Homo sapiens: one gene and its partners. The protein of the gene in region 1 purifies or fractionates together with the protein of each later gene. This does not show direct contact. Each region holds a gene or a part of one and is shown on either strand. Other genes may lie near its edges.

The links.
Region 2: the proteins of C1orf174 (region 1) and PARP2 purify together in Homo sapiens (co-immunoprecipitation; 2 studies listed by BioGRID and IntAct, with this or other methods). This does not show direct contact.
Region 3: the proteins of C1orf174 (region 1) and AHCYL1 purify together in Homo sapiens (co-immunoprecipitation; 2 studies listed by BioGRID and IntAct, with this or other methods). This does not show direct contact.

The regions. Positions count from the first base shown.
Region 1 is NC_000001.11:3,890,273-3,893,923, reverse strand, and holds part of C1orf174 (UPF0688 protein C1orf174), read left to right. Parts: intron 1-927; coding exon 928-1,041; exon of another isoform or gene 1,042-1,175; coding exon of another isoform or gene 1,176-1,183; intron 1,184-2,144; coding exon of another isoform or gene 2,145-2,298; intron 2,299-2,866; coding exon 2,867-3,355; intron 3,356-3,651.
Region 2 is NC_000014.9:20,346,610-20,350,260, reverse strand, and holds part of PARP2 (poly [ADP-ribose] polymerase 2), read right to left. Parts: intron 3,399-3,651; coding exon 3,348-3,398; intron 1-3,347. UniProt on the Homo sapiens protein: Poly-ADP-ribosyltransferase that mediates poly-ADP-ribosylation of proteins and plays a key role in DNA repair.
Region 3 is NC_000001.11:110,015,721-110,019,371, reverse strand, and holds part of AHCYL1 (S-adenosylhomocysteine hydrolase-like protein 1), read right to left. Parts: intron 3,029-3,651; coding exon 2,912-3,028; intron 2,706-2,911; coding exon 2,642-2,705; intron 1,878-2,641; coding exon 1,789-1,877; intron 1,427-1,788; coding exon 1,356-1,426; intron 1,000-1,355; coding exon 905-999; intron 821-904; coding exon 722-820; intron 498-721; coding exon of another isoform or gene 453-497; exon of another isoform or gene 322-452; coding exon 253-321; intron 1-252. UniProt on the Homo sapiens protein: Multifaceted cellular regulator which coordinates several essential cellular functions including regulation of epithelial HCO3(-) and fluid secretion, mRNA processing and DNA replication.

The DNA of each region.
Region 1 (3,651 bases):
GTACTATTTTATTATTATTATTTTTTCAGAGACACTGTCTCACTCTGTCACCCAGGTGGAGTGCAGTGGTGCAGTCATAGCTCACTACAGCCTCAGACTCCTGGGATCAAGTGATCCTCTCACCTCAGCCTCCCACATAGCTGGGACTACAGGTGCACACCACCACACCTGGCTAATTTTTAAAAAAATTTTTTAAAGATGGGCTTTCGCTGTATTGCCCAGGCTGGTCTTGAACTCCTGGGCTCGAGCGATCCTCCTACCTCAGCTTCCCAAGTAGCTGGGATTACAGGTGTGAGCTATCACACCAGTTTCTTTGTACTATTTTTTGCAACTTTCTGAATGCCGAAAATTATTCCTAAATAGTTATTTTAAATGTTATGTCTTTAATTAATTTCTTTCTTGTTATTAGAGGAGTTTGCTTTGCATTCAGGATAAAAGAGAGGTGGACCAGTTTGTTAATATTAAAATTTGTGAGACAGTCGCTAGCTGCATTCAGCTAATAGAATAGGAGTCTAATTTGAGGAAGAGAAACTTTGGTTTCCTCATGTTACCTTTTTTTAAAAACTTTGACAACGTATGAAAGTTGGAGAGCCTTCTAAGGAAGGGCATGTGCTGCTTATTCTAAACACTTTGAAGTTGACTTAATTTCCACTAAAGGACAAATGGTGGCTACTAGAAATATACAAGATAAGGGGGACAGATCGTCCCAAGCCTCCAAAATCGTGGAAATAGTAGATCCTGTATCCTAAATCCAGGCACAGTTTCATTTGGATTTACACATTCGGGCCACAGCTGTCTCCACAAAGATGATAAAATCCTGGGAGTGGGAGGGGCGGTCTTCGGGTGTTCTTTAGGTGGGAAATTCTCGTCTACATGTTCATGCTGCCTTCCTGAGAGCACTCTCTGAGTGGCTCTCAATCTCTCTAGCTCACAGGTGCAGTGCGGTCTTCAGCGCGCTTGAAAGCACGAAGTTGTTCGGCAGCCAGGTTGGCCTCTGCCCAGGAAGTTGCTGGTTCCACGTCTGCCAAGACAGCATGTCTGGTGAGCCCTGTTACCGTGGAGAACGCCAAGATCCTGACTCGAGGGTCCATTTTTATACAAAATTGCCACTCCAAGATGTGTTGCTTTAGAAAAATATCGACTGTTACTTATCTGCCAGAGGGGGACTATTGCAGATGAAAAGGTGACAGCACTGTAATTGCCTTCAGAGAAAGACACACTCTGCAGGCCAGGGCTGGCTCTCCTAGCACCCGCCCACCCGTGTGTGTGTCTAGACCCGGGCTCTGATCCTAGCACCCGCCCACCCGTGTGTGTGTCTAGACCCGGGCCCTGATCCTAGCACCCGCCCACCCGTGTGTGTGTCTAGACCCGGGCCCTGATCCTAGCACCCTCCCACCCGTGTGTGTGTCTAGACCCGGGCCCTGATCCTAGCACCCTCCCACCCGTGTGTGTGTCTAGACCCGGGCCCTGATCCTAGCACCCGCCCACCCGTGTGTGTGTCTAGACCCGGGCCCTGATCCTAGCACCCGCCCACCCGTGTGTGTGTCTAGACCCGGGCCCTGATCCTAGCACCCGCCCACCCGTGTGTGTGTCTAGACCCGGGCCCTGATCCTAGCACCCGCCCACCCGTGTGTGTGTCTAGACCCGGGCCCTGATCCTAGCACCCGCCCACCCGTGTGTGTGTCTAGACCCGGGCCCTGATCCTAGCACCCGCCCACCCGTGTGTGTGTCTAGACCCGGGCCCTGATCCTAGCACCCGCCCACCCGTGTGTGTGTCTAGACCCGGGCCCTGATCCTAGCACCCGCCCACCCGTGTGTGTGTCTAGACCCGGGCCCTGATCCTAGCACCCGCCCACCCGTGTGTGTGTCTAGACCCGGGCCCTGATCCTAGCACCCGCCCACCCGTGTGTGTGTCTAGACCCGGGCCCTGATCCTAGCACCCGCCCACCCGTGTGTGTGTCTAGACCCGGGCTCTGATCCTAGCACCCGCCCACCCGTGTGTGTGTCTAGACCCGGGCCCTGATCCTAGCACCCTCCCACCCGTGTGTGTGTCTAGACCCGGGCTCTGATCCTAGCACCTGCCCACCCGTGTGTGTGTCTAAACCAGGCTCTGAGGCCACTTGTGCTCATCGCTCTGCTCTTAGCGTGCTATGGAGTCATGCTGGCCCATTGCCGTGCAGCCTCACCGCCAGAGGCTTGAAGAGAAAGGCAGAGTGGGTGGGGAAAGGAATCTCATGCCGTCTGCCGTTCACCCTAGCCCAGCCATCGATTCCGAGGAGCGAGTTCCTGAACTTACCGGTGAAGTAGAGCCGCTTCACGGAGCCTACAGTTGAGGGGTTAGGACTTGGCCATATGCCAGCGTGTAGCACAGAGCTTTGCTCATGATGAGGTGCTTGGTAAAATTTTGTCGAAGTCAATTTCACAAATATTTCTTGAGCACCTACTGTGTGCCAGGCACTAATTGGTGAATAAAGCAAAGACCCCTGCCTTCACAGAGCTTATGCCCTAGCAGAAATGAATGAAAGCTGGATTCTTTTACTGTAATTGTATAATATATAAATATATGCTTCAGAATTCACCTGAGGAGCTGTAACGCCACTAGGGGAAACTGAAAGTGTAGGAGTGGTGTGGAGCTGTAACGCCACTAGGGAAAACTGAAAGTGTAGGAGTGGTGTGGGGTGTGTCTAGATTCAGTCTCGCTTGTATTTTGTCCCTTGGTGGCAAAACAGTGAAATGACGATCTGTGAAAGTTGTGGTCACAGCATCTTTATCATTTCCGATGTGAGAAGAAATACTAGCCTCTGGATTGAGGCCTGTTTTATTTGCTAGATATGTCTGGTTCCCCTTACATTTTTTTTCTTGACAGACTTCCTCATCCCACAAAGCCACAGACACGCGAACGTCCAAGAAGTTCAAATGTGACAAAGGACATCTTGTGAAGTCAGAATTACAGAAGCTTGTCCCTAAGAATGACAGCGCTTCTTTGCCAAAAGTGACACCTGAGACCCCTTGTGAAAATGAGTTTGCTGAAGGCAGTGCCTTGCTTCCAGGCAGCGAGGCTGGCGTTTCTGTGCAGCAGGGGGCTGCAAGTCTTCCTCTCGGTGGCTGCAGAGTTGTGAGTGACTCTCGCTTAGCAAAGACTAGAGATGGCCTGTCCGTGCCAAAACACAGTGCCGGGTCCGGAGCAGAAGAATCCAACAGCAGCTCCACTGTGCAGAAGCAGAATGAGCCAGGGCTACAGACAGAGGATGTGCAGAAGCCACCACTTCAGATGGACAACAGCGTCTTTCTAGATGACGACAGCAATCAGCCAATGCCCGTGAGCCGGTTCTTTGGAAACGTTGAGCTCATGCAGGTAAGAGCGGCGCCTTCCTCCTCCCGTGGGTACTCAGGCAGCAGCTGCACATTCAGGTCACACACTCCCCACTCAGTGCAGGTAAATAATGCCTCGACACAACATTAAACATAAACTAATCATTTTAACCCACGAGGAGAAAATGAAACCGTTGGCTAATTGGGGGCTCTCCCTGCATCTCCCGAGCTGAGAATCACTGCTCTCGGGAAAGGTGTGTTTCCATGAAATCAGGTTTGTGGTTTTTTTGAACATCCACCCCGCGCTTGCTGTTAATTTCTTTTGTTTTGAACCCAGCA
Region 2 (3,651 bases), on another chromosome or scaffold:
GCTCCTCCAGTTTTTTCCTGCCTCAGCTCCCTATTTAGATATTTTCTAAGCTATATGTGTTTTCCAGCTCCCAATCCACTCCCAATAATTATTTCCCAAATGAAAACAATTTGGATGCTCCAAAGGTCTAAACCTGTTATGCTCAACTGTTAAATGACTTACTCCTTGACAGTTCTACTCACAGCTTTTGTTTGTCAGCTGCAGAAATTTGACAATGAGCTGAGAGCAGGGCAATAATGGGAGGGGACAAGGGATACGCAAAACCACTGCCACATCCGTCCCATACCTAACCTGACCTGACTTGGAGATACTGAGAGAGAATATGGCCAGTATCTAAAAAGAGGTATCTGTAAGTAAATCACTCAGAGTGAAGAGAGAGAAGTCCATGATAAGGCATAGCAGCTGGTGTTGTATGGCCGAGCCCTGGATATGGAGGCATTCTTTTTTGTTAAGCATGCTGCCCCTTCCTACCTCTATCTCCTGCTTGCTCACATTCTAAAGCCATTGTACGACCTTAGCCCACTGGTGAAAAAAAAAAGGTCATTAGATGTTAGAACAAAAAGGAGCCTAAGATATTTTCTTTTTTTGAGACAGAGTCTTGCTCTGTCGCCCAGGCTGGAGTGCAGTGGTGCAACCTCCGCTCATTGCCACCTCTGTGTCCTAGGTTCAAGCAATTTCTTGTGCCTCAGCCTCCCTAGTAGCTGGGATTACAGGCACACGCCACCATGCCAGACTAATTTTTTTTTGTATTTTTAGTAGACATGGAGTTTCAACATGTTGGCAAGGCTGGTCTTGAACCCCTAACTCAAGTGATCTGCCCGCCTTGGCCTCCCAAAGTGCTGGGATTTTAGGCATAAGCCACCATGCCCAGCTTGATATTTTCTTTTCCTTTAAAAAATTTTTTTGTAAATGTTTTTATGGTTTTTATTTTTTATTTTTTTGAGATAGGGTCTCCCTCTGTCACCCAGGCTGGAGTGCAATGGCTCAATCACAGCTCACTGTAGCCTCAACCTCCCAGGCTCAAGCAATCCTCCCACCTCAGCCTCCAAAGTAGCTGGCCCATGCCCGGTGTTTTTGTATTTTTTTGTAGAGACAAGGTTTCACCATGTTGCCCAGGCTGATCTTGAACTCACACCTGAAGTGATTCTCCAGCCTTGGCCTCCGAAAGTGCTAGGATGACAGGCATGAGCCACCACACCTGGCTGCCTTAAGGTATTTTCCTTCTTTTCTTTTTTTTTTTGAGAAGGAGTTTTGCTCTTGTTGCCCAGGGCTGGAGTACAATGGTACGATCTCGGCTCACCACAAACTCCGTCTCCCAGGTTCAAGCAATTCTCGTGCCTCAACCTCCCGAGTAGCTGGGATTACAGTCATATGCCACCACACCTGGCTAATTTTGTATTTTTAGTAGAGATGGGATTTCTCCACATTGGTCAGGCTGGTCTTGAACTCCCGACCTCAGGTGATCCGCCCGCCTCAGCCTCCCAAAGTGCTGGGATTACAGGCGTGAGCCACTGCACCTGGCTAACCTTAAGGTATTTTCTATCTGCTCGTGGTATTTTAAGTAGAAGAAATAGTAAGAAATAAATACTAATTGGTTGTTAAAATTATATATGTTGGATCAATAAATTCAAACATGAAGTCATATCCAGGAAATATATTAATGAGGCAAATGTATTATCTACTCAAAACCACAAAGGTAAACAAGAGAAAAAGGTTGATTAAAAAGAAAGCTGAGCTTGGGGGCAGATGCCTGTAGTCCCAGCTACTTGGGAGGCTGAGGTTGGAGGATCACACGAGGTCACAAGTTCAAGGCCAGCCTGAGCAACATAGCAAGACACTGTCTCTAAAATTAAAAAAAAAAAAACCCAAAATTTTTTAAAAAGGAAAAATTAATAAATTTAACTACAGAAAAAATTTAAAACTTCAATATGGGCAAAAAGTGTACTATAAGGAAAACCAAAAGGTAAATGACAAATCTGGAAAACACAAGTGGTTTGTATTACAGACAAAAGGCTATTCTCCATATTATATAAAGTTCCTCGAAACCAGTAAGAAAAGGACCAATAACTTTAGAAAATGTGCAAAACAGCTTGTCCCAGTGGCTCATCCCTGTAATCCCAGTGCCTCATGAGGACAAGGCAGGAGGATCATTTGAGGCCAAGAATTCAAGACCACCTATCCAACATAGCGAGATTCTCATCTCCATAAAAAATTTAAAAATTAGTCAGGCTTTGTGGCATGCGCCTGAAGTCCGAGCTACTCAGGAAGCTTAGGTGGGAGGATTGCTGGAGCCCAGAAGTTCAAGGTTGCAGTGGGCTATGACTGTACAAACTGCACTCCAGCCTGGGTGACAGAACAAGATCCTGTCTGTTTAAAAAAAAAAAAAAAATGTGCAAAAGGATATGAACAGAGAGTTAACAATTTCAATAAATGATATGAAATTTGCAAAAAAAAATCTTCTCACAGAGGACTCTGCTATCTGATAAGAGTGTGCTAGGGCTGAGTACTCAGGTGTTTAACCACTAATGGCTAATATTAATATAAAGGACTTGCCGGGCGCAGTGGCTCATGCCTGTAATACCAACACTTTGGGAGGGTGAGGTGGGTGGATCACCTGAGGTCAGGGGTTCAAGACCAGCCTGGCCAACATGGTGAAACCCCATCTCTACTAAAAATACCAAAAAATTAGCCAGACACTGCACCTGTAGTCCCAGCTACTTGGGAGGCTGAGGCTGGAGAATTGCTTGAACCCAGGAGGCAGAGATTGCAGTGAGCCGAGATTGCACCACTGCATTCCAGCCTGGGTGACAGAGCAAGACTCTGTCTCAAAAAAAAAAAAAAAAAAAAAAAAAAAAAAAAAAATATATATATATATATATATATATATATATATATATATATATACACACACACATATGAAGGACTTTAGGCAAGGCGTGGTGGCTTACACCTGGTAATCCCAGCATTTTGGGAGGCTGAGGTGGGTGGATCACTTGAAGTCACGAGTTCGAGACCAGACCCTGGCTAACGTGGCGAAACCTTGTCTCTACTAAAAATACAAAAAATTAGCTGGGAGTGGTGGTGCACGCCTGTAACCCCAGCTACTTGGGAGGCTGAGGCAGGAGAATTGCTTGAACCTGGGAGGCAGAGGTTACAGTAAGCCGAGATTGTGCCACTGTATTCCAGCCTGAGAGATGAAGTGAGACTCCATTTCAAAAAGAAAAAACAAAATTTAAAAAAAAAAAAAAAAGGGACTTTAAAGATCTGAACACTGTGATGCTATCATCAATAATTATCAAGAAGATGGTCTCATAAATATAATGGTGCCACCTCTTCTTGCCTCTTACCTGATTTAGCATGACATCATAGACATCATTTCCTTCACAATACACATGAGCCTAGAAAGGGAGAGAGAGAAAAAATCAACATTAGTATAGGTTCAGCCCTGACATCCTAAATGAGGCTCTAAATTTTCTTATGGCTCAAGTCATCATTCTACAGCAACATCAACATTCATCTCCCAAGGAAAGAATTGCAAACCTATGTTCTACCAGTAACCTGGGTGTAACCTTACTATAAATGAAAACATGCTTCCTTTTTTTTAACTATACAAAAGATTCTGAGTTAGGCTGCGCATGGTGGCTCATGCCT
Region 3 (3,651 bases), about 110 Mb from region 1:
TGTTTAGTTCCTAACGAAAGAACAAATCAAATAAAACTAAGCTGGAACATTATATTCTCAACTAAAACAGCCAATTCAACGAATACTGACTTAGTGACTCTTTTCTATACTTAAGAATACCTGTTTCCACAATTTATTACATCAAAAAAGAATAGGATGATGAGAACATAGTACAGTACACCCTCACTGGAACTGATCTACGCCCAGTTCCACAAATTGCAGTGCAGTGTAAGCAGGCATTTTGCCACATACCTGTGTTGTGGCTGTGATGGACAGAACAAAGGTGGGAACTGTGGAGCAGCTCAAATTGAGTAGACGACCCTGGAAAGGTAAGAGAGAGCCCTGGGATGAGCTCTGTCTCAGATTCCAATGGCATACAAGTCAAGCCAAAGCGGGAGAGGACTTTACACCCCTCTAGACTCAGTTGGAAGAGGAAGAATTACAGTTCCAGATCAGGACTCTAGGCTTTTTCCTATTTTCTGCAAATCCATCTGAGTCTGAAAGGTTAAAGAATCAGCTGTGGTTAGGAAATAGTGTTACTTAGTAAAAAGTAGATTTTTTTAAAGTGGTTTTATTTTGGGGACCAATTTGTGAAATATCTCTCTCTCCAAAGATAAAATTCAGGGAAACATAGGCCTAATATTTGTTTCCCTCCCCTCCCCCCTCATAGATCTAACTACTCTGCTTGTGCTGCTCTGCCAGGGTCCTTCTCTGTGTGTACCTCTGCCAGGAGGACAACTCGTTTGCCATCTGGCCAGATGACATGGTCCACCTGAGAACGTACTCGCTCCCACGTCAGCTCCGGAGTGCGGAGGCTGGTCTGAAAGGAAGAAAGCACAGTTGACTATGGTTATTAATGAAAGGTAGTAGAGAAATGCCTAGCAACAAATGAGAGAAGCCTTACCACATCGATTTCTGTGTTGGAGTGGCCCATATTGCATACGATACAACTGTTTTTCATGCGATCCAAGTGCTCCCGTGTCACTACATTCTTATTTCCTAAAAGAAAAGATGGGTGGTTAAGGAAAGAGATGCCGGGCAACAAAGGTACTGGCTGGCTTTCAGGTAGAACATAGGAGACCAGAGGCTTGCTGGCATTAAAGAACATGTAGACATTCTGAGAGAAGACATGCATAACCGCTCCTTAGGCTATCTGGTCTTCAGATCAAGCAGTATAAAAAGTCACCAGGGAAAAAAGTTTTTTACTCTGGAAAACATGTTAAGGTTCTGATAGCTTATTCTAGTTCTGAGACCTTTATACTGAACAGAGGTCTCACCTCCTTTGTATGAAAGTCACTCAGACTACTTTCAAGATTTAGCCTCTGAATAAACACTTCTCTATGCAAGTTATTTACCTGTGCAAGTTATTACGACATCGACTTGCCGGATGACTTCATTTAGCTTTACCACCCTGAACCCATCCATGCTGGAAGAAAAGAAAGGAACACTATGAGTAAAGCAAGAAGGCAGTGGGAGGGAAGATGGTCATGAAATGAGACAAGATCCCCTTCTAGTTGGATCCAGTGCCACCTCACAGGAATGGTGAGTGATAAGCTCTGCTAAACTATATACACTGGCCTCTTCAGAGTCCCCAAGACTCCCTCTAGGAAGGAAAAATGCCAAGAGGCTCTCAGAGAGCCCTAGGGTTAGAGTGAGAAGAACAGAGCAGTCCTAGCCTTCTCTTCCCCTAGGTGATTTCTGCAAAAATGATTAATATACTCAATTATGAACTCTCAATAACATAAAGCACCTAGAGTGAATCTAATAGTATTATCACTCTGTTCTTACCAGGCCTGCAGAGCACAGATGGGGTCGATTTCGGTAATGTAGACAATTGCTCCAAGAGCTTTGAGAGCAGCACAGCAGCCCTTGCCTACCTGCAGAACAAAAGAAAGGTCAAGTCGTTAGGTTCATTAAGTCATGGATATTTAGGGTAGGTAGGTTATTTGTGAGACAGGAATTAACCTTCATGAAATAGCCTGTCATCTGGTGAGCAGCTGCACAGACGCTCCAATCCCAAGCAGAACAGAAACAGACCCAGATTACGTTGTGAACCTCAGTTAGAGAGGTAATTTAGCAGACATGTCATAGGAAGGACTGGGGCTTTGCATAGCAGTTTTCATCAGGGAAACAAGACTAAGCAAAAGCAACTTACTCTAAGCAACCTCTAATTTCCTATTCTCTTACTTGAGAAGAATCTACTCAAGGATACCCTCGTAGCTCAGGAACTTCTTTGGGTCATTGCTGAAGACAACAAAATATGTGACCTATTCCAGTTTGGAGATATTCAACTATATGCCATTTCAGATTCCACCCTTAATTCTACTGCAAGTCACTTGTGGGGCTAAAATGCTATATATTCACTTGAATTAAGTCTCATTAAAGGTTATTGTTATAATTGGGGAAGATGATACTAGTATCTATTCCACAAGGCAAAATGGTAAAATCTGAAAACTCAATTCATTTTGTATGTTTCTATTCATAAATCTGAATAAAAGGCTTTTGCTATTGTTTGAGATACATTATCTAAAAAAATTTAAACCTTGTATCAGTGACTCTAGATTGACAGCACAAGCCTCCTTTACCCAATATTTCTAATAAGTACACAAAAAGAAAGAGACACTGAGACCCAGCTATTTACCTCACCATAGCCACACACCACCACTTGTTTCCCACCAAACATCACATCTGTGGTCCTCTTCAGGCTGTGGAAACAGACAAGGGCTCAACTCAAACGTTAATAGCTCAAACTCAGTCCCTCTTCACAAAGTTAAAAGTGTGGGCCAATGCCCATGAGAATATCAATTGGAAGCTGGTTGAGCTCAGTATGAAATGGTCCCTCTAATAAACTTTTAAAGCCAAAGGAAGACCAGAGCCCCTAGAAGTTTGAATATATATACATTCAACCTACCCATCCAAAATGGATTCTCGGCAGCAGTACAAGTTATCAAACTTCTGTTTGGTAACAGAATCATTGACGTTCATGGCCGGAACACAGAGCTTCCCAGCTTTGGAGAGCTGATACAGCCTAAAGAGAGAAGAGGTCACAAAAACAAACAAAAACCAAGTTAGCTGGCACAACATAATTTGTGGCAAAATCTGCCTAATTCTCTTCAAGTTCCATGCTGCCCTTCCCAGTCTCATTTATTGCCCAAGGATATTAGAAAACATGATTATTTCCTTGTCATCCCTCCACACTTCTTTTCATTTTCTTCTCCCTTTACCCCTTTTTTGGAAGAAAAAAAAAAGCCTTTCAATTGAAGAAATGTACTTCTCTTCCCTTTATAGGGAGTGTTATTTCCTTTGATCAGCATTTTTCAATAGAAACCCATGCCTACTTCTGATAAACAAAGACTATCAATGATTCTGATATGGTTCCGTGTGTGTGTGAGTAAGCATGCGCAATGTGCCCCCAAGAAACACTCTTTCAGATATCTTTTCAGTATTCCAACAAGCCAAGAATATTTTGCCCAGTTTTACTTTTTGTAGTGTGTATAACATGTAGTTTTACAATAGGATTGTTTTTCATATTTCAAATATAAAATGATAATACAATATTGAATACAGTTTTTCAAGATACATTTATTCCCTACCCGCCCCTCAACACTAGTTGAGAATCACTCAATGGAGTAAATGGGAGAGAAAAATGTA